Homo sapiens: one gene and its partners. The protein of the gene in region 3 interacts with the protein of the main gene of each other region in a pairwise test. Each region holds a gene or a part of one and is shown on either strand. Other genes may lie near its edges. The genes, in order: ARHGDIB, REPS1, ANKRD1, MYOM2 and MYL1.

Region 1 (6,051 bases), on a different chromosome or scaffold from region 3:
CTGAGGTAAAGTTGGGGAACCAGTGGCCTAAATCAATGGGGATTAAGCCTGTTTTTTTTTTTTTTGTTGTTGTTGTTGTTTTTTTTATGGAGATATAGCAGATTACACCATTTTAAAAAACTCAGACAAATTGAGACCTCAGTTCTGATCTCAGTCCTGCAATGGCCTAAGTCATATAACATTTTTGAGCCTCCATTTCTTTGTGTATATGATGGACTTTAAGGATCTTCTATCTACAAACTGTCATTCTATGAACATATCAGTTGGGGGAGATAAAGTAACAGATGGTGATGAGAATTCATGGATAGAATAACTGGATGGAACAACAACAGCAGTAAGTTGGTAAAAAAAAAAGTGAAGAACTAGGACAAATGGTGAAAATAGCCAATCAAGTTTATTTATAGGTGGTTAACTGGAATATATATTAAGAATAGTTGGGCATTGAAAAGTATACATAGGCAGATAGGTGGCATATAGTTGGCTAAGTGTTGCTAATAAGTTTGAAAAAACAGTTGCAGACATGTCACTGTCCTTTTGTCTAAGTGAGGTGATACGGGCTTTATGCCCAAAGGAAAATAGGAAATTAAACTTTTTTTTCATGAGACTAGGTATCGGAAAGGCCAATCAATATCTTTCAGGTCAATGGTCTTCTCTGGGATTTGAGAAATTGACTGGTCCTCTATGTCATCCAGATTTATCAGACAATTTCTCCCCTATCTTGCTTATTAATTTGGTGGAAACTGAGACATGCTTTGTTGTTTCTTGCCTCTGGAGGGGACAGACCCTTAGGTAGAAAGGAACTGTAAAGTGCCTCCATCACCTTCCCGCCTCTCATTTCTCCCTGCCTATATTAATGAAAGAAAATTGAAGGCAGGGTCCCAAGGCATGACAAGAAGAATTGCAGATTAAGTAATGTTGTTGTGTTATTTTAATTAGACAGGCTTTTTCAATCCTAGAAAATATTTTTTTTTCTATTTCTTTGTTAGGAAATTGAGCATTGCCTCCCCCTTCCCTCCAATGCCACCCCCACCTACTCCCACCCCAGATACACATGGCACTGGGCAAGTTTTTTCTTTCTTGGTTTTCTCTGACACTTGGGTTTTGTACCTGTGAACTGCCTTTTTTGGTTGTTTACTTTGTAGAGTATTTTTATATACTTTATTTCCTTTAAACTTATCTTGGTTACTCTTCTCCTTTACGAGTGATAATATTGAATCCAAAAAGCTGACTGCTGAACGTTAGCAGCTGATGCAGTCTAAACGAGGTCCCCTGAGCATTGGCCTTGTCAATGTCTATATCAGAGGTGTATTTGTGCCTTTTCCTAGAGCCGGCATCCACAGCTTTTATTGTATTCTCATCTGAGTCTATAGCTAAAAGTTGCTAATAACCAGAAGTTAAAGTATCAATGAGAAGCAGTTTGGGACAGTGTGGAAATGTGGGTTCCCTTACCTTTCACCCCAGTCCTGTAGGTGTGCTGAACGTATTTCAGGCCTGACACAATATCCCTGTTCACCTGCAGGTGGGAAGGAACCAAGATGTTCAGATTAAGAGGGTCTTTCATTTTTTCTCATCTTTCATGCTGATCCTGCCTAGCTGAATCGTCTCTGACAATGAAAAAACTAAAGATTTAGTTCAGAATTGGTGTTTCTATAATTATTTAGCATGGCTGTGAGGCAAAGATTAGAGAGGGGAAATCATAAAATGCAACATTGCCAAACTGGTTTAATTATCGAACATTTTGATTTTTACCGTTTTGGGAGAGAGGAGTGGTTCATTAAAACATTGGCCCAATATTCTTCATTGTATTTCTCCTTTCTCAATGGTCCCAAGAATGGCCTTGAGCTTTCCCTCTCCAATACTGCTGACCAAGAGACCATCCTTGTCTTAGGAAAAGTTATGAAGATACCAATAGAGCACATTATGTAAATATCTAAAAACCACAACCTCAGAGATGATCCACTTACCATATAAAAAACAAACAACAAGGAGGAAAGTGAAAATTCATGTCTAGAAGATGGCTGTGACTGCAATATAACTGAAATAATGGGTGAAATTCACTTGTATCTGGCAAGTATGTTGGATGTCTGTCATTTTCAGACGTTGTCTGAGATCTTGCTATTTTCCCAAGCCTTTCAAAGAAAATTCAGTAACGCAGAATGAAAATGTGGACAGCCCAAGAACTTTGTTTTTCCATGATTCATTTCACCTGGGACTGACCTGGGTTGTCTGTTAATTTTACACAGTCGTTATGTCTATACAAACAAATTAAAGTGGACATTGCATCATTAGCCGAAGAGCTTGGTTATCTGTTCACCAATGTGAAGAATTAAAGCATCTTCAAATAATTTTTCTTCAACAATAATTATGGCTGTCCTTTTGTGTTGGACACAATAGTTCAACCAATCAACCAGTGCTATCTTTTGTTTTGTTGGCAGGGAGGTGGCAGAGCAGTGAACTCTGCCAGCTTAGATTCTTGACTGTCACAGGGTAAATCTGTAGTATAAACCTATGAAAAGCTGTCAGAAAAAAAATTAGCATCATCAAAGAGACTGTGATAAAGCCCAGGCTTTCTAATACTGTGAGTCTCAAATGTAGCTCATAGGAATAGGGAAAATAAATGCACCTTTCTAGATGTCCCGAAGCTTATCCCTTTCACCTAGTGGGAGAAAGACCTAAGAAGAAGAATTATATTGGTGTAGCAATAAGGACTTCAAGACAAAGAGTCTACCATCTCACCAGCGCTCTTCAGTGGGTCCATTTAATATAAATACATTTGGGGTGGGTGAAATAAAACTATGAATATTCATAGAATCCTCTTCTTCTGCCCACATCCCCATCCCTATTGTGTCTCCCACTCCAGGGGGAAGAAGCCTTGGTGTTATGAATCAAAGTGAGAGCTGTGGAAGTCAGAGATACCACATTTCCTTGGGAGGCAGAAAAAAAGTTGGGAAGAACCTAAAATAACAATCGTAGGTCAGGTTTTTAGAAAGTGCTAAGAAGTTTGGGAGGAGAAAAAGAACATTGAGTGCAACTAACAGAGATTGTGAAAGAGGACTTAACATGTGTTACTTGTGTTATAAATGCAAACTTTCTTGGACATTTTTCAAGAGACTTCAGTGAAGATTTAAGTTGTTTTTCAAGGATTTTTGACTTTGATCTGGCATTTCTTCTAATTGTAGCACCATGCTGGGACAAGCCACAGGATGGTTCAACTTTACGTAGGTTACCCAGAGAGCCATCAAACCTCTGAATTAGAGAGTACTCAAAAGCCCCTTTCTGTGGCCTCCTCCTGCATCATCCTAATGTGTAAACCTGTCCACACAGACCCACATACCACATTCCTCCTCCACCTCCCCATCCAGAGGAGAAGCCCCTGTTCCAGAGCTTTCCTTTGCATCTTAGTCACGTCAAAATTTACCTGTCACATTTCATTTGAGGAAACCTGGTTTACCAAATAGACAAATTAATGCAATAGCATCAATGATTAAAAATGAAACTGATGTGCAACCCATTCTAGGCATATTTTGATATAATGCCTTACCAAACCTTCAGGTGCTCCAATAATAAATAATATGACAGGAAACAAGTAAGTGAACCCTAGCTCAGTGTCCATTATAGAGTAGGCATCAACAAATATTTCCAGGATGAAATTATTTTCAGTTATATTTGTATGGGGTAGGGAGGTCATCCATAAACCCTGAATCATATCCTGTACCTTGGGGAAAAAAGTTCCCAGTGTGCAAATAGAGAGAGCAGATGGAGTCTTCCTTGGTGGAGCCCAGGCCCTGGAGACTGAGGCTAAGTGGGAATGAGAGGCCACCAAAGCAAACATAAACCACGAAGTGCAAACACTGCATTTCTAACTTATTTGTTTTCAAAGTCAAAGTTATTTTTCTTGTGATTTTGGCTGCTCATTGGGATATATGGCTCATTGGGATATATTAGATGTCAGTTTATTTCTTATTTAGTTTCCTCTTTCCTGGTTACCTGTTCCACAACTATAATTGTAATTTCCAGTTCTTTAGCAAAGATCACACTTCCTGGATTTATATAATCCTTGAGCAATTAGAGCTGAGGCCCTGTCCCATTTTCTTTTCCTATTGGTTGATTCACTTGTTTGTCCACTTTTCAATATATATTCATGAACTATATGCTATTTACAAAGTTTTGTGTGAAATATTGGAAAGGAGAGATGTACAATTTCACCCTAGATTGAGGTGCTTATATTCTATGAAGAAGAAATGACACAGGTGGTACAACACAAAGCAGTGTGTGCCTCGAGGATGTGTTTGGAGTTCACAGAGGGATCCCATTGGCTTAAGAGATAATGAAGAGTTTAAGAAGTCCTGGCTAGGAAAAGACAGGAGGCAAACGTGGGTCTCAACAGGTAGCCCTCAGGGCTGGGAAGAGGACATTCCAGACCCAGCTTGGGGGTACTAGGGGAGAAACAAACAAAAAGTACCTCAACATGATCATGCAAGAAATGTAGTCACTGATTAAAGAAAAGATTTAAACTTTACAAAAACACACAAGGCAGGATACTTACTTTGAAGTGAATTTTGACTCTATATTCAGAACCTTCCTTTAACACAATGGTTTCCTTTTTGAGGGCTTCCAGATCTCCTGTAGAAGAAGATTTAGAGAGAGTTTATCCTCAAAAGCAGATACACAAGTTAATAAATGACTTTTAAGTCCCGGAAAAATTTGTTGGGCCCACGAGGGCAACATGGTTCACAGGGCCCTCAATTCACAGAGTATTTGAGTTTAGTCCTTGCACACACACACACACACACACACACACACACACACACTTAATGCCTGAAATCTTACAGCTCTGTTATGAAAAACATGAGAGTTTCCCTGCCCCCAAGTTTGATGACAATGCTAAAAATACACAAGACATTACAAATAATGAGTTGTGAAGATAAATCTTTTTTTGGTCCATTTATTCTCTCATTGAGAATTATATTACTGGTCAAATGAAGAGGTTATTAAAGAATATGCCCCTTACCCCTCAAATAAAACATATAAGAAAAATAGTATTTAGGAGTGTCAGCTATTTGTTTTTATAGATTTGGTGATGTTTGTGGCATTTTCTAGCTTTTAAAATTCTACTTGTTTTTATTCATTTTATCACTTTAAGAAAATGTTCACCTTTGTGTTTACTCTTGTATTTTCATTTGCAATTTCATACTATTTTTCTTAAGGAATATCACTGAAGTTATAAAAGCTTCAGGTTCCATAAAACCAGGATCTGTCCCAAATTCCTGTACCCTGATTAAGGAGGTAATCACTCTCTATGCTTTTCTTCATGCATAGCAGCTTGTTAGTGACAGAAAACCCAATTTGGTTTTCCTCTGCTGGGAAAGGGGACAGAGACCAAGTTTTCCTTGCAATACTACCAGGTCCTGCTGAAGAGAACAGATTTCTTTAGCGCTAATTCAGACCTTATCTTGCAAACTGGCAGCTGTACCTGGTAATATTAGGAAGACTCTGAGTTCTGGTGAGAGAGCGTGAGTTTCTCTCCTGGAGAGATGTCAGCATGTCGGGGTAGCTGAATGTGTGTGTGTGCCTGCTCTAATGATTTCAGTTGAACAGGAAGTGTGCCTTCTCAGCCTCTGATTTCCTCCCTCTGACAAAAAAGCCCATATAAGGTAAAGACTGGCTGTGTCCTGTGAGAGGGGAACTACTCTGCTGCTAACTAAGCCAACTGTTCTAGACTTGTGCTTTGTCTGTCTCACAAGAGTCCAATTTTTTCATTTGGTAACTATTTTTTTTTTCCACTAAAAACTTGCCTTTGAAGGCCCCAATCTCCTGGCTCCGTGCTTCTCCTCTCATATCCCCTCTGATGCCCATTTCCTCCACAATAACCCCCTTCCCAGTCTCTCTCCTCCTCAAGCCCTAAGTCTCAGGGAAAGGCTTGACCCTTAGTTACAATAAGGTGAAAGAAAATAACATCTTAATTTGTACGCCTTTAGTAGGAGACGTTGTTTATTTAACAAGAATCAGAGTTTCAAGCTAAAACAATTCAATCTATAGCAGTGGAATTTC
Region 2 (6,051 bases), on a different chromosome or scaffold from region 3:
CAACCCTATTTATGCCTTCGTATTTCTACCACCTAAAAAATTCTCACAGATGTCCACTGCTCTCTATCCTACTGCCACCTCGCTAATCTAAGCCATTGCTGTCTGCTGCCTGGACTGTTGCATATCCACTAGCGTATCTGCTTCCACTTGCCCCCAGTATTCTTTTTGCTCATACAGCAGTCAGCATGATCTTTTAAAATATAATTCAGATGATGCTACACCCCCGAATAAAAACTTTTAGTATATTTCCACTAAAATCCAAATTCCTTATCACTGAGTACAAGGGCCTGCCTTATGCAGTCCCTGCCATTCTCCCCTCTTGTCCACAGTTTCAGTTCCTTAAACACACTGTGCTCTTCACAGCCTCAGGCCCTTCCCAGTTCTCTCTATATGAAACACCTTATTCTCCCTCCCCTGACCCCCCATCCAGGCATCCTCTAAGGGGCCTTCCCTTACACCTAAGTAGGTCCCCACTACCTCCTCTGATTCTACCACCCAATGATTCTCTATTATTGTACACAGTTCTTTTTTCCTTTTTTTTTTGTGGGTGGGGCGGGGGGGGGGGGGAACGGAGACTTGCTCTGTCACCCAGGCTGGAGTGCAATGACACTACTATGTTTACTATGTCTCATTGCAGCCTCAACTTCCCAGGCTCAAGTGATCCTCCTGCCTCTGCCTCTCAAGTAGCTGGGACTACAGGTGCAGGCCACCACGCCTGGCCAGTTCTTTTTCTTTTCGACATTGGCACAAGTCAGAGAAGATGTCTTGATCCTTCACCACTGCATGTATACCCCCAATACAAAGAACAGCCACAAAGAAGTCTTTGTTGAAAGTATTTAAAACTGATTTAAGACAGAAGTGTTTAGCATTTCACAGGTCAGCCTGCTCTTCCTTAAAACTGAATTAATGTAGAAGTCCATAAGATGAGCTTGACTCAATTAGGGGAAGGCTGGAAATCACAAATTAAGTGCAAAATTCTGTGGAACTATGTTTTCTAAGCAGATGTCCAGTGCGTGCAGCAGAATCTCAACGGAATCAACAGCCCAAAAGAGACAGACTAATAAATTCTGTCTTCATTATTTAATGAGACAGACCCCAAATTCAACACCTGGCTAATTCTTGAAACAAAATGCAGAAGAGATGTAGTATTCTTAATTTTAAAAAGCCTAAGTCTTAGAATTTATCAAATCTCAATGAAATCTGGTATACAGTTTAACTTCCATTAGACAAATTTCTTACACAGAGGGAAAAGATGAGTGAAGATGCATCTATAATAGGAAAGGCTACAGAAAATAAAACCTATATAAGGGAAAACATCAGAAATGACAAGTCTTATCACCCATTTCAAATTCTCACGACCTTGAAGAACTAAGCACCCATGGATTTATGACCCTTTCATCAGTTTCCTCTTGTATATATCTCCTCTTTGTATTCCTCAAAGAATGTCAAATAATCCTGTTCCAGTGTCAAGATAGTGGAGCAACTAACCACAAGACTTTGTGCTACTTTTAAAGGGGTGTGGCTGGAATAGATTAGCCGCTCCTACACAAAGATACTCTCATTTGAGTCAGAAATCATGAAAACCCAATCCCATAGCTATATCAGACATTCTGTGATTTGTTCAGGGTTACAAAGTTAGCTGATGCCAGAACTGGAACTTGCCTCCCACAGTTAGTGCTCTTTATACCAGCTTCTCATGCTCTTGTGTCGCTCCATCAAATGTTTGGCACGAATTCCCAATATACTAAAACTCTAACTCTGGGCTATTGATTAAAACAAACAAACAAACAAACAAAATGACTGAAACTAGCACAAGAAACTCAAGAAGACAGAAATTTTAAAAGTAAATAAATAGGACACTACAGAAACACATTGACTGTGACTTCTTTCACAAACAGTATCTTTTTCAACTGTGTATAGGTAAGTGATTATGGCAAGATTATTTCTGTAGTTTATTACAATTATTTTAGTGATTCAGAACTAAAAACCACTACTCCAGAATAACAAACCTGAGACTTATTAAGTTTATAACTTTCAACACAGAAATGAGCTCTGCTTTCCTATTTTTAAACTTATCACTAATGCCAGATCTTGTAATTGATTTAAACAAGTTTCAAGACAAAAACAAAATGGTTTGTTTCACTGTTATTGCTTTTCCCCATTAAATTTATGTGTTATGCAAATATTCTAACAAGATATTGCTCTACACAAATGATCTAAAGATTTTCAGCTTCATTAACAGGGTACATTGCTTACAAACCTCAATGAAAGAACAGTTAGTACTAGAACCCTTTATCAATCTATTATGCATTCAAAGTCTGTATGAAGTTTTAAGACATTTCCCAAAACAGAAGCTTTTGGTAAAAGCTAAGAAAACATTCTGATTAGTGTGGTAAATAGTATATCTTTCCTAATCTTTAAAAAACAAAATAAACTACTTTGGGAAAAGCTGACTTTTAAGCCACAACACTGAATATTTTCTTGCTCGGCAGACAGCAAAATTCCTCATGATTAAATCCTATGAGCCAGATTTTTCTCCCCCTCATCTTGCTATTATGTGGCATGGAGCATAATTTTACAAAGCATGCACTCCTTCACTTTGTCTATTGACATTCTGTCTTCAAAAACAAACTCTTAAACTCAGAATAGATTTTCCTCTGCTATTCAAAAGCAACTGTAATGAACACACCTTAAAACATCTGACAGTGGTAATAAAGAAAAATTGTATTTGTGTGTGCCCTGAACACCAACTACAAGAATCTCCCTCTTTCTCTGAAGTGGCTGTGTTTCAAGACATCATCATACATTAAACTACTTACTACGCAAAGGAGTAAGTTGATACGTAACACAAAATCAGATATTCTAAAATCCCTACTGTTCATAAGAACTATGGGGAAGTCAAAATCAGACCAACTGAATTTTATTCCTCACCCTGCTCCCAAACCACATGACCAGAGAAGGTAAGAGCTGGGACGTGAATAATAGTAAGGGAGAGATACGAATATTCACAAATAAATTATTTAACTTATCTGCTATCAAGTTCTTAGTGAACAAGAATAAGCCTGTAATCCCAGCACTCTGGGAGGCTGAAGTGGGCAGATCACAAGGTCAGGAGTTCAAGACCAGCCTGGCCAATATGGTGAAACCCCGACTCTACTAAAAATACAAAAATTAGCCGAGTGTGGTGGTGGCGCATGCCTGTAGTCCCAGCTACCCAGGAGGCTGAGGCAGAAGAATCGCTTGAGCCTGGGAGGTGGAGGTTGCAGTGAGCCGAGATTGCACCACTGCACTCCAGCCTGGGCAACAGAGCGAGAGACTGTCTCAAAAAATAAAAATAAAAATAAAAATAAACAAGAATAACACCCACTTCACAAGGTTGTTGCAAGAATCAAATGAGTTCTTCCATGAAAATGATTTGCCTGGTTAAAGGAACATAATAGGCACTCGATAAATGCCAGCTCCTTCCTCGTTTGGTTCTGGACTCGGTGTTATTTGTTCTCTACACTCATGCCCCCAGATGACTCAGTCTCCTCCTAACTTTTACTAACAAACACCGAAAACTACTGTACCAACCAAGGTCCTGATATGTATGTGCATGCCCAGTCTATGTGACACTGTCTCCCGTCCCTAAACACTTAGGTGAGCAAAACAGAGGAAGAAATCCCGAACCTCTGAACCTGAACTGCTGTAAGAACCAGCAGTTGGGGTGGACAAATCTCCACCCACTTCCCACTGTCTCCAAGAGATCTGAATTGCCATCTAAGAATGTCTGAAACCAAACTCATCATTGTCTCTTTTAAAAAGTAAGCCCTCTTCCTGCCCCTTTTCTAACTGTGAGTGGTGTCCAAAGAATAATCCTTGCCCCACTGTATTCTCACCAAAACACTGCCAAATAACCCAGGCCTATCACGTTTACCTTCATAATCTCTACCATCTCTCTCTCTCTCTTTTTTTTTTTTTTTTTTTGAGACAGCGTCTTGCTCTGTCATCTAGGCTGGAGTGCAGTGGCGCGATCTTGGCTCACTGCAACCTCCTCCTCCTCCCAGGTTCTAAGTGATTCTCCTGCCTCAGCCTCTGGAGTAGCTGGGATTACAGGCATGCGCCACCACATGCGGCTAATTTTGTATTTTTAGTACAGAAAGGGTTTCACCATGTTGGCCAGGTTGGTCTCCAACTCCTGACCTCAGGTGATCCACCTGCCTCAGCCTCCCAAAGTGCTGGGATTACAGGCATGAGCCACTGTGCCCGGCCCATATCTGATTTTTTGTCCCACTCCCACCACTATAGTCCAGGTTAGGGTTTCTCAGTCTCAGCACTATTGACATCTTGGGCACATAATGCTTGTGGAGGCTGTCCTGTGCACTGCAGGATGTTTAGCAACATTTCTGGCCTCTACCCACTAGATGCCAGTAGAACTGCTCTCTCCCCTCTAGTTATGACAATCAAAATGTCTCTAGACACTGCCAAATGCCTCTTCCCCATTGTCACCTTCATTCCCATGTTTGAGTACCACTGGCCCAGTTTCTCACTTCGTATCTGCCATACAAAATCAGCCCCCAAGTTAAGTCTACAGTTTTATTCCTCTAATTCCTGTGGCCCTGACAAACGACTCCTAAAGCACTGCTTTATGAGTCATTTCTCTTAAATCTACCACTCCCTGTTACCTACACAATTAGTTCAAAGCTCTCCATCCAACCTTGATAATCTGGCCTCAATTAAACATTATTCCACAAAGCACCTCATATAGTGGCTACCCAGCAGTCCTTCAATAACATATCCAGTCTCTCCCTTTCTATTCTACTGCTGTCACCCTGGTTGGATGTCCATGACCTAGCACCCAATCCAGACCACTGAAAGAGTGTCATTCCTTACCCTTTCTGCCACTCAAAGTCAAAAACTTTTCAATGGGTCTCCATTGCTTGCTGAAATATCGTTATCTGCTGCCCTTCTTCAGAGTCTTTCCCAATATGGCCTCTTTCTAATTTTATATTCTGTTATCCCGAAAACACTAGTCCTTGAAAAGGCTCCTACACTTTCCACTTCTGATCACTTTTCTCTGCCTGGAAGCCCTCATAATTCCATTCCCCTCACTCCACCCTAATTTAAAGTCCATCTGAATTAAGTCAAAAAGCCTTTCTTGGTCATACCTCCTTAGCATTTCATAACACTTGGCACCTCTCCTATGGCATACATTATACCTTATGTTATACATGAGCACTCCTATAATTGACAAGATCCTCAAGAGCTTCTTACTCCTCTTCTGATGCCTGCAATGCCTAGCCCAGTGTTAAGTAGAGAACTAAGCATTAGATATGAGCTGCCCCAAATGTTTCCCACTTAGAAAGCAATGGAGGACTGTGTTTTCAGACAATCCCAAACTCCCTTAAGGGAATTAAGCACATATTCTCCTTTTGTCTCATATTTCTATGTCTTAGACCAATTTTTAAGTAAATTGCCTTCAAGATATCTAGACTGCTATTTAGTATACATAACTGTAAGAGTTCTGCTCCAGGGAGTTCCAACTTGTAACTGAACCCTGAATATTTAAGCTCTCTCTTTATGCCAAAAGACAATGGAAATTTATTTTTTGAATGTTAATAAAATTGAGCAAAACATAAAAATAACTTGCACTGAATTAAACATGTTTGAAGTAAAGATTCATTAATGCTAATGTGTCTGTCCTAAAAATTACATTTCAAGTTCTAAAGTCTTTGTGTACCCATTAAAAAGATTGAAAGTTTTATTTCAACTCTTTCTCACCTCAAAGACAAACTAAAATAGAACAGAGAAGGCTTTTCCTTAATTTTATTTAGATCCTAACTTGAAGGTATACTTTGTTATTTCTTCAAAAGGAGCAAAAAGAGTATGATTAATGAGCATGTTCTGACCAGATCTCTAAGTCCTACTCCAAAGCTGTAACAGGAGAGTACCATAGACCACACTACCAGCACCCTTCGTTAGCAGACCACAGGCTTTGTTTTGTATCTCCCTGAGCTAAGAATGGCTTTACATTTTTGTGTTTTGTAAACACAAGAAGAAGAATATGCAACA
Region 3 (5,797 bases):
TTCCTGGCCTCAGACCCACCTTGAACCTGTTGACTCTGCTTCTCTAGGAAGGAGATACCCCGTTGCATGATGCGGTGAGACTGAACCGCTATAAGATGATCCGACTCCTGATTATGTATGGCGCGGATCTCAACATCAAGAACTGTGTAAGTACTGGAAACAAGAAACACCGCTTGCAAGCTTTCCAATTTCCAGGAGCATTTCTTAAATAGGTGAAACGACTCCCACAATGGCAGTATTTGAGGGGTCTTCGATGGTCTAAATGCCCCTGCCCATTTCCCCAAGGACAGTGTTTATCTTGGCTAGGACCCAGTTCACATGGCCAGAGATGAGGGAAGTCATAGATACTGCTATGACCTCAGTGCCTGATACAGTGCATAGTAATTCTTTTACAATTTGGTCTTGGAAATGAAAGATAGTCAAAATTTGCTCATCCCCACAAACACCTAGAAGTCCAATCTGCTTTGGCCATTTCTGTCTGTGCAAGGGCTGAGGAAGTTAGAAATAAAGGCATCCACCATTTCCAAAATGTCCTAAAATTCCACAAGGGTCAGTGCAGCCAGTGAACTAAGGTTAATCAATATCCAATCTGAGTAATTCAGAAAGTCCCTTTCCTCCTTACAGCAATGTGAAATGTCACCATTTTCTTCCAGGGGTAGCTGTGCTTTTGCCTGTATTTTTTTTCAGATAATTTCTATCCATTCTCCACTTGGATTTGTCTTCACATCTCTCAAAATAATTTCCTATATTTAGGCCCTGAAAATTCTTGTATAAGTACATATTAATTTAACTTCATCTGTAAGCAGGGAACATAACCAACTTTTCCTCATGGTCTCAATTTCCAGACAAACACCATCTAATATAAGCTTAAAAAATATTGCCCAGAGGAACAGGTATAAATTTCTGAAGAAATAATTTTAAAGAAGCTTTTGAAGAATCACTTTACAAAAAAGAGTGGGGGGGGGGGGAGGGAAACTCAGTCATCATATAAATGCAAATAATTTTCTCCCCTTATTTGTGTTGCAAAGACTGAGAGGAATATCTTATCTTTTAAAACAAATCTGGCTTGGTGACAGGATCAAAGAATGGTGATAAATGAAGATTGCTTGGGATGGGAAAGTGTTAACAGTAGGGCTTCCTCAGTCTAGATATTGGAATTGATCCTATCTAATATTTTTTTAAACTATCAGAAAAAGAGCAGGTTAAATGAAATCTTGAAAGCTGCAGAAAATGTGAAGATTTTTTTTCAGGCAGTGAGACACTACCAGCAGAGACAAATAGCATACAGGTTTAGGGAGACTGTGTAAGTAGCCAGAAAAATCACAATATAAATTTCAATGGAGAGAAGTGCAAGGAATTTATGGAAGAGTAGCCCAAAATATACAAATACGGCTTAGGGTTCTGAATTATCAGTTAGATATTAGCATCAGGTTTATGGAACTATTAATGTCATTGACCCAATGGATTGATGTTTCCCCCAAAGATCAATAACCTATTGATGCCATCTTAAGGAGATTGGGAGCAGCATACAATATTTTCTCATTATCCAAAACTGTATATTCATGTCTACTGATGATTGTTCCTAGAGAAAGACACTACAGAGGTGGGGAAGTTCCAAAATGAAGGTTATAGGGCCACTAATTTAAATACCTACAGATCTCATAATCTGACTGCAGACTGACCTCACTGTGCCGGGCAGATGGCCTAAGTGACTTCAATGTGTGGCTGTCAGGGTCTGTGCACATAACTCTTTTAAAGGTGGCCCTTCCCCAACCCAGTCTATGTTGCTCTGTGGAACCATGGGTACCATGTTTTTAACTCTTCTGATTTTTTCATAGAAGTCACAAATCCAGCTCTTGGTTTCCAACTGTTGCCAATTCATACTAATCTTAAAAAAAATCTAAGTTCTGTTTGGGTCAAAACAAAACAGGTCTCTATTCTGGTTTGCATCTCAAAGCTGCCAATTTGCAGTCGCTGGGTTAAAAAGAAACTTCTCAATGAATAGAGATGGAAAAATTTTGGACTTCTCAGATCTATAGATGAGAATTGAGAGATGACATGGTTTTAATATTTTTAAATCTTGAGACACGTGCATAAGGGAAATCAAAATTTCGTCTCAAAAATTATTTGTTCACATGTGTCATTGCCATCAACTCCAAGAAAAATACATTTCCTGGGAGAGTCCATTGAAAATTCTGACAAGTTATGAAAAATCTGCTCCCAGGAACAGTAATAGTACCCAAGCAGTACCTAAGTCCTTAAGCCAAGTTATTGATGCAGCTCATTTACCATCATTTCTTATCAATCAAAGAACTATCATTCAAATGGATAGGCACTGATTCTTGGTCCAAGAGGCATGCTCCCACCTCCGGGAGTCCATTCCACAGGATACTGGAAGATGTATGGAGACATTTTATAAATTTCAAAATGACTTGAGGTGCTCTTGACACATAGTGTCTAGGGACAAGGGATTTTACCAATACCTGGGATGGTCCCACGTGAAAAAGATTTTTGCTCTAAAATGGCAAAAGCATCCCTCTGAGAAACAGTGAAGGACTGGTTTGAGTATAAACTGCAGATCACTCCTGGTGGAAACCATAAAACACTGTTATAACATATACCTAATCCTTACCTCATGAAACACACACAGAGAATGTGAATTTACAGATGTCACCCACCTGAAAGTCAACTTTCCTTATCTCATTTGATTAGGCTGGGAAGACGCCGATGGATCTGGTGCTACACTGGCAGAATGGAACCAAAGCAATATTCGACAGCCTCAGAGAGAACTCCTACAAGACCTCTCGCATAGCTACATTCTGAGGCAAACGACAGACTCTTAATCAGTAAATGTTCACTGGCATTTTGAAGGCATGGCCCAAGAGAAGAGACACTAGCCATAAAATCTAGTTTCTATTTATCAACGTGTTGTGAAGATGTACCTAATGAAGTTTTGAGAAAGCACAGGGTTATAGGTGTTTAAATTTCCTTTAGTGAAACTCTTATTTATTTTTATGTATTCCTGTTTATTTATTTACTGCCACGCTACTGATATTCAGACCTTCATGATCATCCATCTGGTGAGCAGAGCTTCATTTGTATATAACACTTTCAGAGCCTTCCCACCCATAGGTAGTTCTTAAACCAGGTGAAAGAGCAAAGTTCAAGTGCCTACTTATGTGTCATTCGCTCATGTAAGAGTTTTTAAGAGAGGGCTGATTATCACAGCCCTCTTTTCTCCTGAATTTTTAATGCAGAAGTTTGAATGAAGCAAGGGAAGGCATGTAGGGACAGGAAAGGAAACAATGGAAGGAAAGTGATTCTGTGAAAAGGACAGTGAAGCCAGCTATTTTACCCCCAGGCTGGATTTTTTTTTTTTTTTTTTTTTTTTTTTTTTACCGAGTACACAGAGTACCCAAGTGAAGAGAACGTCATGAGTGTAAGTGCAAATCAGTGGAAGGAGCGGCAAACTGGGACATGCAGAATTGAATTTGCTCAAAAAAGATGAAAGGAAATGCAAACTGTAAATGTATAAATGTATATTGTATTGTATGTACATTTTATATTCATAATAAAGGCAATCAAACTCTAAACCTCTAAGTCCTTCTATAAGTGTGGTGGAAATGTCCTATGTGAAAAAAAAAGCTATATAGGAGGGTTTTTTTTTTCCATTGTTTTCCAAGTTTTGCAGATTAGAAATGTCCCGTACAACAGCACTCCCAGTATTTAATATGTATACAGATCACCTGGGGATCTGGTTAAAATGCAGATTTCTGATTCAGCTGGTCTCAGGTGGGGCCTGAGATTCTGCTTTTCTGACAAGCTCCCAGGTGACAGGCCACGAAATGCCACCACCACACTGAGCAGCTAGGCCGAGAGCCATAAAGACACAAAGGAATTCTAGCGAGCTTTCAGTCCCAGTGGTGTGTAGAAAGAGACCCCTGGTGGTCAGAATGATTTCTGCATGGTAAACCCGCATTTCTTACGAAGTTCCCATTAAGGCTTAACTAGTGACTTTTTTAAATTTAAATTTTAAGTTCTGGGGTACATGTGCAGGATGTGCAGCGGTGTTACATAAACGTGTGCCATGGTGGTTTGCTGCACCTATCAACCCATCACTTAGGTATTAAGCCCAGCATGCATTAGCTATTTTTCGTAATGCTCTCCTTCCTCCCACCCCACCCCCTATACAGGTCCCAGTGTATTTTGTTCCCCTCCCTGTGTCCATGTGTTCTCATTGTTCAGCTCCCACCTATAAGTGAGAACATGCGGTGTTTGGTTTTCCGCTCCTGTGTTAATTTGCTGAGAATAATGGCCTCTAGCTGCATCCATGCCCCTGCCAAGGACATGATCTCATTCTTTTTATGGCTGCGTTGTATTCCATGGTGTATATCTACCATATTTTCTTTATCCAGTCTATTATTGATGGGCATTTGGGTTGGTTCCATGTCTTTGCAATTGTGAATAGTGCTGCAATGAACATATGCATGCATGTATCTTTGTAGTAGAATGATTTATATTCCTTTGGGTACATACCCAATAATGGGATTGCTAGGTCAAATGGTATTTCTGGTTCTAGATCTTTGAGGAATCACCACACCATTTTCCACAATGGATGAACTAATTTACATTCCCACCAACAGTGTAAAAGTGTTCCTATTTTTCTGCAACCTTGCCAGCATCTGTTATTTCTTGACTTTTTAAGTAACTGCCATTCAGACTCCATCCATCTGACAAAGCTCTAACATCCAGAATCTACAAGGAACTTAAATTTACAAGAAAAAACAACCCCATCAAAAAAGTGGGCAAAGCACACGAACAGACACTTCTCAAAAGAAGATATTCATGTGGCCAACAAACATCTGGAAAAGAAAGCTCAATATCACTGATCATTAGAAAAATGCAAATTAACTGGAGATTTAACAATTCTTGTGGACAGGGACTGGCAATGTCAAAGACTTCCCAGGAGAGAACACACAGGTCCATGATTTTTGACCTCCAGACCACCATAATAAAACTAATATCACAATAAAGTGAGTCACAATTTTTTTTGGTTTTCTAGTGCATACAAAAGTTATGTTTACATTATCCTGTGGTTTAATAATTGTGCTATAGCACGATGTCTAAAAAACACTGTACCTACCTTAACTTAAAAATACTTTATTGCTAAAAAAAATGCTAATGATCATCTGAGCCTTCAGTGAGTCATAATCGTTTTAATGGCGGAGGGTCTTCCCTCCATGTGGATGGCTGCTGACTGATGAGGGTGGTAGTTGATGAAGATTGGGATGGCTGTGTCAATTTATTGAAAGAAGACAACAATAAGCTTACCACATCAATTAACTCTTTCATAAAAGATTTATCTGTAGCATCTGATGCTATTTGATAGCATGTTACTATCAATAGAACATCTTTCAAAATTGGAGTACATCCTCGCAAACCCTGTTACTGCTTTATTAACTAAGTTGATGTAATATTCAAAATCCTTTTTTTGTCATTTCAACAATGTTTACAGCATCTTCACTAGGAGTAGATTCCATCTCAAGAAACCACTTCCTTTGCTCATCCATAGGAAGCAACTTCTCAGCTGTTCAAGTTTTATGACAAGATTGCAACAATTCAGTCACATGTTCAGGCTCCACTTTTAGTTTTCTTGCTATTTCCACCACATCAACAGTTACTTACTCCACCGAAGTCTTGAACCCCTCCAAGTCATTCACACAGGTTGGAATTAACTTCTTTCAAATTCCAGTTAATGATATTTTTACCTCCTCCAATGACCCACGAATGTTCTTAA
Region 4 (6,051 bases), on a different chromosome or scaffold from region 3:
CTGGACTGCGCTCGCTTGGGGTCGCAAGGGCCTGAGGCCCATGACGCCCTGGGGGCTCCCACCACAAACGCCCGGGGCAGATACAAAATAGCGGCTTTTCACTTTCACCAAAATGAGAGAAAACTCCTTCAAATATGAGTCTGATTTCTAGAAGTCTGGGTTGCTATCTGAATTTTCAGCAGGCTTACCAGGGTCAGTGTATATCCAACTTTTACTACCACAAAACTACTTTCGAAAAAGGCGTTTTATCTCTATGTGAAAAAATAAGATAAAACATGTAATCAAGGTTTTTAAAGTAATTACAAAAGATAAAAATTAAACAAGCAGTATATAAAATTTGGGAAAGACAGAGAAGTTACATGGAATGCAATTAAAATGAGCAATAATTCCACCATATAAAATAGCCACATTAACGTGTGGTACATATATTTATAGTCTTTTTCTCCATAGATTTTAATGCTCTTGTTGTATCATACAATTTGCATTCTGTATTAGATTTCACAAAATAACATAATTCCTCTTATTAGACTAAAGATCTTTATACAATAATTTAAATGGCCATGAGGTTTTTAATCTATGAACATATCATCATGTGTCTGACCGTATTGACAGCCATTTAGATTGCTGTCATTTAATCACTACTGCAAGTAGCTGCAATATGGTAATAACTTTAAATTGAAATGCGAACCACTGAGTTATGACAGAATTTTATGAATATACTTCTAAATTATCTTTCATTATTTGCAGGTTAGTTCTATTTTGCTAAAACTACTACCTATGTATTGATTCCCTTATGTTTTCTATGGTTTAATTATTTACTTTAATGGAAAAAAATTTATTAGTAAACATGATCAACTTTGGGTATTTGTGACTTCCTTCTCCAAATTGGCATCATGTTTCATAAAACTCAAAAAAGATGCATGACCATCCTTTGTGTGCGAGACGCAGCGGGCGCGCCTGGTGGTCCTGGGATAGCGAGAACAGAGCATTTCTTCCTCCTCCACACGCCTCTGGGGACCTCGCGGTTTTCACTGCCAGTCTCGTTTCTGTTTCTCTTTGTAGTCCGTGGTGGGGAGCGGCAGCTGGCAGAGAGTCAACGCCCAGACGGCTGTGAGATCCCCGAGATATGCCGTGTTTGACCTCATGGAAGGGAAGTCTTATGTGTTCCGAGTGCTGTCAGCAAACCGGCATGGCCTGAGCGAACCTTCGGAGATAACGTCCCCCATTCAGGCCCAGGATGTGACCGGTGAGCTGTCACACTGGGTGGCCCCAAGTCAGGATGGACTAAGAGTGGGGTGACACCAAATAGCCTTAAATTGTGTGAATAAAGACATTAATGTTATAAACGAGTTGAAGTTCAAGTGGACTTAAAACTTCACTTTACGAGAGATTAAGAGCTCTCTGCCATGTTTTGTTTGGTTCTTGACATTTCTCCAAAGCTCCATCTTCTTTTCATGAAACCAGTAAGTGAGTTGAAAAATATGTTTAGGAAACGGTCACTTTTATTGTTTTATTTAAACTTTTAAAAAAACTTTTATTTTAGGTTCAGGGGTCCATGTGTAGGCTTCTTACATAGGTAAACTTGTGTCATGGGGGTTTGTTGTAAAGATTATTTCGTCACCCAGGTACCAAGCCTAGTAGCCATTAGTGACTTTGCCTGCTCCTCTCCCTCCTCCCACCCTAGACCCTCTGATAGTCCCCCGTGTGTATTTCCATCTATGTGTCCATGTGTTCTCATCATTTAGCTCCCACTTATGAGTGAGAACATTTGGTATTTGGTTTTCTGTTCCTGCATTAGTTTGCTAAGGATAATGGCCTCCAGCTTCACTCATATTCCTGCAAAGGACGTGGTCTTGTTCTTTTTTATGGCTGCATAGTATTCCATGGTATATATGTACTGCATTTTCTCTATCCAATGTCATTGACAGGCATTTGGGTTGATTCCATGTCTTGGCTATTGTGTGAATAGTGCTGCAATGAACATTCGCATCCATATGTCTTTATGGTAGAATGATTTATATTCCTCTGGGTATATATGCAGTACTGGGATTGCTAGGTTGAATGATAGTTCTTTTTTTTTTTTTTTTTTTTGGCTCTTTGAGGAATCATGACACTACTTTCCACAATAGTTGAACTAATTTACATTCCCACCAACAGTGTTTAAGTGTTCCCTTTTCTCTGCAATGGTCACTTTTAAAGTAATTCAAATTTTAAGTGCACTAGACTTTTTTGTTGTTGTCTTTTTTTAATTAATGCTTTTTTAAAAAAATTTTTGTTTTGTAGAGATAGAGTTTCACCATATTGCCCAGGCCAGTCTCGAACTCCTGAACTCAAGGGATCCTCCCACCTTGGCCTCTCAAAATGTTGGGATTCCAGGTGTGAGCCAGGGTGCCCAGCCAGGCACTAGAGTTTCTTGCCCATCTGGCTTGAAGGTCCCTCTTGGAAGGTTTCAAATACAAATTACAGAAATTTTGAATTGCAATCCCTGGAGTCATAACTCCTTCGTGGATGGCAGTTAACTAGCATGTAAGCGGAGGCACCCTGGAAATCCCCAGAAGCCTTCACGGGAGGCACATTGGTGTCAGGAACGCGGTTCTGAGTGCCTGGGTGCCCTCCACCCTCTCTCTGTCGTGTTTCCTGAGAAAGCCAGATACGGAAATGAACAAGGTCACGAGGCCGGCTGCCTCCAGGGCATCCTCAAGTTTCTATCTGGCTCTGGTTTTAACTGAAGCTCTTAGAACTCATACCCAGAACCACAGGCTTGACAAGACCAGCTGTCTTTGAGCAAGGCCCTGCCTTCTTGTGCTTTATGACACATATGAAAAATGACAGTGTCCATCACTGAGACACACTGTGGGGTGTGTGGCCCAGGTGGCCGGCACGGAGGACACAGGTGGCCCCAAGGCCTTACCTGACCTCAGTCCGCAGTCCACTAGTGGGGCCTGGCACCACATGACAGGATCTGATGGTTAGGTCATGATCGAATTTTGAGTGCCCCTCGGAGATTTCAACAGATCTGATAAAATTGAGTCTTACTTTCTTAAAATTGGTTAATTTCCAGTCCAAAAAATAGTTGTTACCCGGGTAGCCTCATCCCTGCTGCCAACAGAGAGTCTTTTAAACAGCTCTGATGGGAGACAGGAGGATTCAGGATGGATGTCATCCTGTGTCTCTAGGAGTTGTGTGGAGCTTGGGAAGAGATCAGAGAGACCAGCACCTCCCAATGGCCCTCGGGTGGTCGGCCCGGGGCTCCTCTCCTACTCCTGGACCCCTTGTCTGAATTTCTTCCAAAGCCCCCAGTCTGGCTGTCCAGTTCCCTGTGAAAAGGGCCGGAAGATCTCTGCTGTAGCTTCCAAAGCTCTGATGCCATTTCACCACTCCTTTTGTCTCCTACGAAAAGTTGTCCCTTCTGCTCCGGGTCGGGTTCTTGCTTCCCGAAACACCAAGACGTCGGTGGTGGTGCAGTGGGACCGACCTAAGCATGAGGAGGACCTGCTGGGCTACTACGTGGACTGCTGTGTGGCCGGAACCAACCTCTGGGAGCCCTGCAACCACAAGCCCATCGGATACAACAGGTGCGGCCTCCCTCCCCAGCCCTGGAGTCAGCCTTGCAGGAGTAGCAAGACCGTTGAGGTCCCTGTGGCCCTGGCACAGGGAGTACCATGGCCGCAAGGCTTCTGCGTAAATGAGTCTGTCTTAGCCACACACAAGGGCTGTATAATTTTAAAGTTTGACCACTTGGATGAGCTAGTTACTGCACTTGCTCATGTCGACCGAAACGATTTATTTATGGATGAAAGGAGAGTTCCAGAACCTGTTTTTTTTTCCCCTGACATAATTAGCACTTAGGCCTTTTCTTTGAATAGCAGAGTTAAAAATAGTGACTACGATGTGAAAGTCGTTTTATTTTTTTCGTATTGATTTTTTTGAACTTGAAAGTTGCTTTGTTCATGTGCCTGGTAGTTCTATTCCCCAGCACCTGATGGAGACCCCACCGGGCGCCGACTCTTCGCTTGTGGTGGGGGCAGCCTCGGGGGATGCTGGTTGCTTTGCAGGGGAAAGCCAGTGACCCTGCCTTTGGAGAGACTTGCTCCTGCTGCCTGCTGAGTGTGCAGGGATGTCTGAGGTTATTAGGCTTCTCTGCGATACGCGTCTTAGGAAAATGTCAGCAGCTGTCAGAACCACCCTTGTGGATAGATGATCAATTATGGCTCAGCCATTTCTCCTTTTAAAATCTGAAAAAAATACACTGTAAAAAGTGGTGGCTAACAAGAAGAGATGTCATTGAAAAGAATAACAATTAGATGTTCTTCACAGCCCACAGCAAATGCAGAAAGATCGATCAGAATAAGAAACTTAAAACATGATTCCAGTACAGGGAAATGGTTAGTGAATATTTATTGACTATATATGATAAATAATAATTGCTTACACGGACTGAATATCTATCATACACAAAGCATCTGTGCTAAGTTGTCCACCTAGAGTTTTCCATGTAGTGCCTGCAATAGTGCTGTGGGGTGGGAATTATCATCCCCATCTTACAAATAGAAAAACAAAGTCTTACAGGGGTTAAGGAGGTTGATTAAGACCATAAAATCTGTGAGGTTTCAAAGCCCCAGTATTCGAGCCTAGTCCATCTGACTTCCAAGTCTTGGCCTGTAACCACTGCAGTGTAATTACTGCTAATTAAGTTTTACATACACGGGTTCTTTTAGATAAGAAATGGCATACTGTTGGATAATAGACCTCTGATCCAGAGGAGGCCCAGAAAGTACAAAAGCAAAGGTGAACTCACAGAACAAGTGGCTTTGGCACCACGTGTAGTCAGCTCCTGCTATAATTAGGTGCTGTGACCTTACTGTCGGACTCTACATGTTGAGCTAATTAACTAGAATTGAAAATGAAGGATGTATGTTATCCATAAAAATTTTTTATGGCGCGTTCAGGGTGATTTTTGCTTCTGCTGCAGGAGAGAAAAAGTGGAGCCTGGCAGTTCTGACCCTGATCCCTGTGTTTCTCAGGTTCGTGGTGCACGGCTTAACCACGGGAGAGCAGTACATCTTCCGAGTCAAGGCGGTCAATGCTGTGGGGATGAGTGAAAATTCCCAGGAATCAGACGTCATAAAAGTGCAGGCCGCACTCAGTAAGTCACTCACAGGCTGTTGTGTGCCGATTGCTCCCATACACTGTCATTTCTGCATGAATAAACATTTGTGATGCCATTTGGAATGTCATTGAAGGGGAAAAGGGGACTAAATTCCTGAACAGAGAACTTGAGTTTCTTTGAAGCCTCTCGGTTGGCTGCTTGTCTTGGAAATGACAGTGTGAGAGGGAGAAATGATAATACACTAATAAAACGCAAATTAAAAATAGAAAACATTGTTGTTGCCAAATACCTGTACTCATGTTAAAATATATGCTGTAGGCTGGCGCAATGGCTCATGCCTGTAATCGCAGCACTTTTGGAGGCCAAGGTGGCTGGATCATGAGGTCAAGAGATTGAGACCATCCTGGCCAACAAGGTGAAACCCCGTCTCTACTGAAAATACAAAAATCAGCCTGGCATGGTGGCGGGCGCCTGTAGTCCCAGCTACTCGATAGGCTGAGGCAGGAGAGTCACCTAATCTGGGAGGCGGAGTTTGCAGTGAGCCAAGATCGTGCCACTGTACTCCAGCCTGGGGGGACAGAGCAAGACTCCGTCTCAAAAATATATATATGCTGTAGGGGATACATTTCTCTTTTCAAAATATGTGCTAAAATACAGCAACATCCATGACCTTTTTAGCTGTTCTCAGTTCTAGGAACTTTAGTCACTTCAGAGAATGTCATATTTATGTAACTTTGAGACTTTGTTGGTAAATAGTGGTGTTTAACAGTTTTTATTATTTTGATCAAACGAGACAATTGGGATCCTAAATCTCAGGGACCGTCCCTAGAACAGTTGCTGTATCAAGCTGTGCTGCAGCCTCGTGGCTTTCTGTTTTCTCATGAAATGCACCTCAGGAAGTCAGTGCGCATACTCAGAAACATTTTGAAACACAAATGCCA
Region 5 (6,557 bases), on a different chromosome or scaffold from region 3:
CATATGTTGAGTGAGTGGATAAAACATATGGATTAATATATTTTATATTGTTTTAATTTATTTTCCAAATGCAAGGAAGACAAAAATATTTTTGCCCAGAACACATAAATCTCCTTTATCTGTTTAACCTTGTCACAGATTTTAAGGGATTTGTGCACATGAAACAAAGTATTGATAAAAACTATGAGTTAAAGCAAGATATATCTATCTCTCAGTAATTGCAGAAAATCCCAATCTATCTTTGAATGATCCAAAGGAAAACTGGTGAACAAATTTCTGCTATTTATGAAGGTATTTCTGTTATAAACATAGCATTATTTTAAAAATCTATCCTGATTATTTAAATATGAGACAGTATTCTAGGTAAAATATGTTCAGATTCTTCTGACTGTCCTGTATGTAAAAAATGAGTATCAGCAGCTAAATTTAGATAATGATTGAGTCCTTGATATGGGGAAACAAAGGAGGGAGCTATCAAAATGTTTTTCCTGTAATATACATGGATAATATAATTCAGTAGATCGTGCCACCATGTGAAAAAGGAGACTGATTAACTGTGGGTCAATTGTAACTTAGGTGAATTATTTCTGATCTGAGAGTCTTAATCTTGCTTAGTTGTAATATATGGACAGAAATAGTGACCTTCTCCAAGTTGGTGAATGCTTTTATATCAGACCCAAGAAAGTGGCTAATTAATCTGTATCTTTAAACACAACTATATTTAACAATTAGAATATGTGTGTATTTACACATACATTTGTACACATGTATGGATGTATATATACACACATACAGTAAATGTATATATGTATATATACACATACAGTAAACATATGTGTGTTTGTATATATATCCTTTATATATATAAAATGTATAAATGTGCTCTTTTAAAACCCAAACTATTTTTTTAAACTGGTTAATAACTACTCATTAATTAAATATCTCACAAGTTAAAACAACAGAGATGAGAGTGGGACTGAGAAATAACTGATTACTAATTGTAACCCCCTCTCTGGCAGAATTTACCACATACAAAGTTATAAAGTGCCCATTGGTGGTCTTAAATTTCTCGATATGAGTCTAGCCTTGCAAACTGAGGAAACCAAGGACAGAAAAGGAAAAACTTTCAAGTTACCACAACTTGCACAGTGTTGATAATTAAAGTTCTTCTCTCTCTTTATGTCTCTAAAAATGTATTTTGTCTCTCTAGTATGGACAAAAGATTTATGTGATAAATAATTAGACTTTACACCATTTAGAAAATAAATATCTATAAGTATCTACTTTTCTTGGAAGCTACTTTACTATTAGAAAAGTTGTTTTGCAAGAAGGTAAATCTTGCTGTCATTTCCATCCATTTGATATGCTTCATTAAATTATACAAAGAAAATTAAATTATAGGAAGTCATGTTGAAGTTTTTTGGCATAGAATTCACTACAATTAAAGGAGAGAAAGAGTGCCAGAGTCTGTGCTCCCTAGAAGGGAAGCCACTTTAAGACATGATGGGCTTTCCTTATACGTCTGCTTTTTTATTTTTAACCACCACCACCTCTTTGCTGACCAACATTTCCTTGCAAATTATGGCAAGGGGGGAGGAGCATGAGCAAAGGAGCTGTGTGAAAGTTGGTGATACTCCCTGCCAAAATTCCAAGTTGAAATGGAATCCTTCAGTAAAGTCTCTTAGGCAAGGTGGGAAAAAAAGATTTACAACTTCAGCAGAACTGTAATTCTACCAAGAAAAAGTACAGTCAATCTACCTCACTGTCACCAAAGGATCTGAAGCTGGCTTTGTCATATATCTTTCTCCTTTATATATGGAGGTGGGGGGGGGAGAAAAAAAGGAAAGAGAGTTAAAAAAAATTGATGAAGCCCTGACCCTTTAGATTCCATTTATAGTCTGAGCCGGAATGCCATCCCCCTTGACTAGAGAACTGTCCAATCCAGCCGCATGTGTCAAGATTCTATTAGGCACTAAGTGAAATATATATGCATGCCCTTATGCCGTTTAACACTCTGGGTCCATCTTCAAGACACTGGGCTGTGGATCAACCCAACCACCACTCCTCTTCCAAGAATCATTTTGACAGGTTCTTTTGGAGGAACTCCTTCTCTTTTTAACCCACCCTTTTAAAAAAAAAAATGGCACCAAAGAAAGACGTGAAGAAACCTGTGGCTGCGGCTGCGGCTGCCCCAGCCCCGGCACCGGCACCTGCACCTGCCCCTGCCCCAGCCAAACCCAAAGAAGAAAAAATTGACCTCTCTGCCATTAAGGTAACTAAATGGATGAACTGTTTGGTCACTGAAACATCTTTCAATAGTAAGGATCTCTAGGAACTTGCAAAGGCGTGTATTTTTCATTGAGAGGAATAGCATTATTTAGTGAGCTGGTAGATTATGAAGAAGAGAATCCTGCTTTAAAAAATGAATGCCAGCATATAATTTCAAAAATTATTAGAGTATGGTATCATATGTGAAGCCTGTGCTTGCTCTATTTTTTATTCTCAAGTTTCCATTTTCTCCTAAATTGCACTTATACTGTTTAGGAGAAAAGTATATATGCTTAACAGTGTTGCATTTAAGAATATTTAAACCAGTGTTTGGGTTTAAATAAAATCTCTCTGGAAACCAGATCCCTTACTTACAAATTACATCAAAAGGAACGTTTTAGCCCCTACTTATTTCCAGAAGTTTAAAAACAGCTGATGGCCCGGTTGTCCTTTATGTATTTGACAGTTACTTTCCTTCTTCTGAAAAAGAAGATTTTTTGCAATTCAAGTTAATTCTCCCTTCAGCTTTGCCTAATAAAATTTGATACAACACTAAATGAGATCTCAGTGCAGAAAATTATGCACTCAAGTGTTTCAGTGACTGTAACTGTCATCTTGTTTATTTATACACAGTATTTAATTCAGAATTTGTGAGTTTCTTCTAAATGAAACTAACAAAAATAATTATAAAATTTGTTATTTACATGGCTTTTAGCTTATGTCTTAGAGTATTTGCCTACTGATCTTGGACTAAGAAAAATGTGATTAATTATTGTGTTAACACTTTGCTGTGATCAAAGTTCTCAATTGCCAAAAGATTATCTGCTTTTGGAAAAATAGGTACGTCTGTTAACTTCCAGTGATGTGACTCATTAAATGTGCACCTTCTCTTCATTCACTGAGTTCTGATTGGCTCATATTACAACTTGAAAATTTTTATCTAAGGAAACCTGCCTTATATGGAAAATCAATGAGCAATAGTACCCATGAGGTGAACTTTTCACTTAAGCCAAAAGTTGTATATGTAATAAATCTCAATTTTGCCAATTTACCATTGTTTACTTGTAACTATGATGCTGACCCATAAACAAACATTTCATTGACCATTTAATATAACTATAGAATTTTTTAAGTCCCAAAAATATTTAGTTAGATCACCCTTAGACATTATGTAATGAAGTTAAATATATTTATAATTTATATAACATTCCAATTAAACATGAAATTTTGTTTAAAGTATAAGTAAATTATCACGAATATTTAATCTTTAGTTTGTAGGTATTTGAAGTATTTGAAAAAAATTGGTCATGGAATATAATATTAAGAACTATTCTTAATGGATATCCATTTAGGAGGACAAAAAAATGCATGTCAGGTCTTCTGATAAATGTTTTTCTAACTTGAGGACTGCATGCATACAGTTCTTTAAGAGGAAACCAAATTTTTCATCTCCAGCAATCCTAGTTAATGTATCCTTTATAGATGCATACTGTCTACATTACACAATAAGTGAGATCATAGCCATGATAGTAATTCTGATTGTCCCTCATCTTTAACTCTGCACTCTGTAGTAACATAAGAGATATGAATCAGTGTCAAAGCTAGTCCTTTATTTATTGTGATTTATAAGACAATGTTACCTGTTTGTATCTGGTATTACAAACTTCTGTAAAGAAAAGAAAATGTACCTCTTTACCTAAGAAGCAAATGAAGTATCTAACTAATGAAAACAGGCATTAATTTTCTTCCCTGAGGAACTGTGTAAGAATGAGTACATAAATAAAAATTGTTTGGCAGGTGAGAGATCTCCAAGAAAAGACAAAACATCTCTTTTCTAATCCAGAAATTAAGCCAATTACTTGTTCATAGTCAGCAGAGAAGCAACACTTTTCAGAATCTTGAAAATTTGTTTATTATTCTGTCAATATGTTAAATTGACATATTGACATTCGTCTGTCAATATGTTAAATTGAGTTGTACAAGCTTAATATTGTGTAATATTGTGAGGATACAATATAAGCTTATACAACTAAGCAAAAGAAGGAAATACCCCTGGAGTGTCTCTATGAGAATTGGGTATGCTCCATCTTTATTATTTCATTGCAGAACAAGAGATGTGATGGATTCTAGTAAGGGACACAAATCAAAAAGAAGTTAAATGAATCTGGAAGAAACAGGAAAAAAAATAACCTTTATCTTCCATCCAGAAGGCCCATTTGCAACAGAGAAAAAAAAGAGAAACAAATGGAAACTAACACACTTTTGTAAAGAAATGTAAATATCTTCAATGCTTTGCATTCATTAATATGAAATAAATCAGTGCATATTTAGATGTATTCTAGCATGGCCAAAGAAAGTGATACAACTCAAGAATTTTATAAACTTTAATTTTATCCCAGGAGGTAACAGGCCTAATTAAAACATACATTAAAACATTTTATATTATGATGTTTTTAATCACTTAATAATGTTTCTAGATATATTACCTCATAAAAGCTATACAATTTTTTCAAGCAGAGAAAATGAACTTTAAAGAAATTAATAGAGCTGTTATATGTATTCATTAACTTTCTGAAAATTCAATAAAGAACAAAACTTAATTGGATTATAAACTTTCTTTCATAAATCAAAAAAGATTAGAAACTTAGCTGTCCTCTAGACTTTGAGTAATGCTGTAGTTTAATCATAACTGCCTTTGTGTAGTACTATAGTCATAGCCATGGTAAAATTTAATTTCTCCATAGTATTCCCAGCTAATATCTATGTTTCATATTGTAATATACTACATTTAATAGCCATATATTTGATTCCCCCATAAATCTTGAATAATCTTGAATATAATTAATTAGTTTTATCAACTGCTTAAATGTGCTTTCCAATCTGATTTCCTGGTTTGTTAGTTATTAGTTTACAACATTTCTTCAATTGTTCTGACACAAATTTTATGATACTCTCTGAAGGAATGCTTACTTGATGTCCAATCCTAATGGATTTTCTATGAGTACCCTTTTCAACAACAAAATACTGTTGATATTTGAACACTAAAGTTATTGTCCTTGGTGGTTCTAAGCACTCTTTGCCTTCAGAGAGCTAATACTCCCAGTAATCCAGAACAAAAGAACACAGCCTAAGAGAATCACAGTTACAGGAATTAAAACACAGCATAAGTATGGTTGTAGGTTCAAAAACAAGAATATGCATTGCTCAAAACTGCAACCAAGCAAAATAATGAAAGTAATAACATAACCATGTACCTAGATTGTAGATCTTCAATGTGTAAGTGAATTTTCTGCATGATGCATGCATTATATGTCAGTATTGCTGTGAGGTGATAGGATTGTGAATCATGTCTCTCACTGTGCTGTTTGAGTTTTAATTCTCGTATTCACCACTTAATCAGGTCAGCCGTGACTAGATATTGTGAGCGATATTATAAAACGTGGTAAAGGTACAGAATGCATTGACAGAAACTATCAAATAACGAATTTTGCATCAACAATTGACCACATGCCTGGGAAGATTTAAACTTTCAATTTAATATGTAAGGTAGAAATCTAATGTTCCCAAATACATTTACTTACTGATGGGTATTCAGTGGAGGCAGATAGTTTTATACGCATTGTGGCACCCAATTTGTTTTGGCCCAGGTATAGGATTACTTTTGTTCATCTGTAAGTTCTTTTTTCTCATTTCCAACAAAGCTAATATAAATCCAGTTTCCTTTAGAAGAATTTCTGAGAAAAATCAAATGAAGTCATGCTCCACGAAAGGCTCTGAAATCTATAAAGCTTTTTGTAACAATAACCAATATTCATTGTGAATTTGCTCTTTGCCATGTTATCTTATTTAATCCTCACAATATTACACTGAAGTTATTGTATCCACAATTTAGAAGTAAAGAAACTGAGCTTAAAAGAGGGTAAGTGCTATACATATGATCAAATAAGTAGTTAAGTGATGGACCTAGGGTTTAACTTAGCAAGCAAAATCCAGAGTCAACTGTGTTAACCATATCCAAAACTACCACCCTTATTTATAAAAAGTAAGTTGCTGTTTCTAAGAATGTGTAAAGGAGCCCTTTTTACTCTTAAGGGTATGAGGTAGAGTGGTTTTTATATTGCCCTGCACAGTCCTGTGTAACCAGAAGAGGGGATGACAGACACATCAGAGCAAGTTCACCAAGACTTTTGACCTTGACTGTTCACTACTATTCTGTTCTCCATAGCTTTTCCCTATCTTAGCACCTGACAACTTGGGTGTTTTGTTCTGCAGAAGGAGGGTGAAATATC

Evidence for each region.
Region 1: the proteins of ANKRD1 (region 3) and ARHGDIB interact in a two-hybrid assay, tested with the Homo sapiens proteins (one large-scale study listed by BioGRID and IntAct).
Region 2: the proteins of ANKRD1 (region 3) and REPS1 interact in a two-hybrid assay, tested with the Homo sapiens proteins (one large-scale study listed by BioGRID and IntAct).
Region 4: the proteins of ANKRD1 (region 3) and MYOM2 interact in a two-hybrid assay, tested with the Homo sapiens proteins (one large-scale study listed by BioGRID and IntAct).
Region 5: the proteins of ANKRD1 (region 3) and MYL1 interact in a two-hybrid assay, tested with the Homo sapiens proteins (one large-scale study listed by BioGRID and IntAct).

Annotation. Positions count from the first base shown.
Region 1 is NC_000012.12:14,943,327-14,949,377, forward strand, and holds part of ARHGDIB (rho GDP-dissociation inhibitor 2), read right to left. Parts: intron 5,571-6,051; exon of another isoform or gene 5,474-5,570; intron 4,624-5,473; coding exon 4,547-4,623; intron 1,514-4,546; coding exon 1,450-1,513; intron 1-1,449. UniProt on the Homo sapiens protein: Regulates the GDP/GTP exchange reaction of the Rho proteins by inhibiting the dissociation of GDP from them, and the subsequent binding of GTP to them. Regulates reorganization of the actin cytoskeleton mediated by Rho family members.
Region 2 is NC_000006.12:138,980,132-138,986,182, forward strand, and holds part of REPS1 (ralBP1-associated Eps domain-containing protein 1), read right to left. Parts: intron 1-6,051. UniProt on the Homo sapiens protein: May coordinate the cellular actions of activated EGF receptors and Ral-GTPases.
Region 3 is NC_000010.11:90,909,892-90,915,688, reverse strand, and holds the end of ANKRD1 (ankyrin repeat domain-containing protein 1), read left to right. Parts: intron 1-47; coding exon 48-146; intron 147-2,712; coding exon 2,713-2,823; 3' UTR 2,824-3,593; downstream 3,594-5,797. UniProt on the Homo sapiens protein: May play an important role in endothelial cell activation. May act as a nuclear transcription factor that negatively regulates the expression of cardiac genes. Induction seems to be correlated with apoptotic cell death in hepatoma cells.
Region 4 is NC_000008.11:2,088,946-2,094,996, forward strand, and holds part of MYOM2 (myomesin-2), read left to right. Parts: intron 1-1,062; coding exon 1,063-1,246; intron 1,247-3,400; coding exon 3,401-3,575; intron 3,576-5,024; coding exon 5,025-5,146; intron 5,147-6,051. UniProt on the Homo sapiens protein: Major component of the vertebrate myofibrillar M band. Binds myosin, titin, and light meromyosin. This binding is dose dependent.
Region 5 is NC_000002.12:210,310,626-210,317,182, reverse strand, and holds the start of MYL1 (myosin light chain 1/3, skeletal muscle isoform), read left to right. Parts: upstream 1-2,008; 5' UTR 2,009-2,140; coding exon 2,141-2,272; intron 2,273-6,557. UniProt on the Homo sapiens protein: Non-regulatory myosin light chain required for proper formation and/or maintenance of myofibers, and thus appropriate muscle function.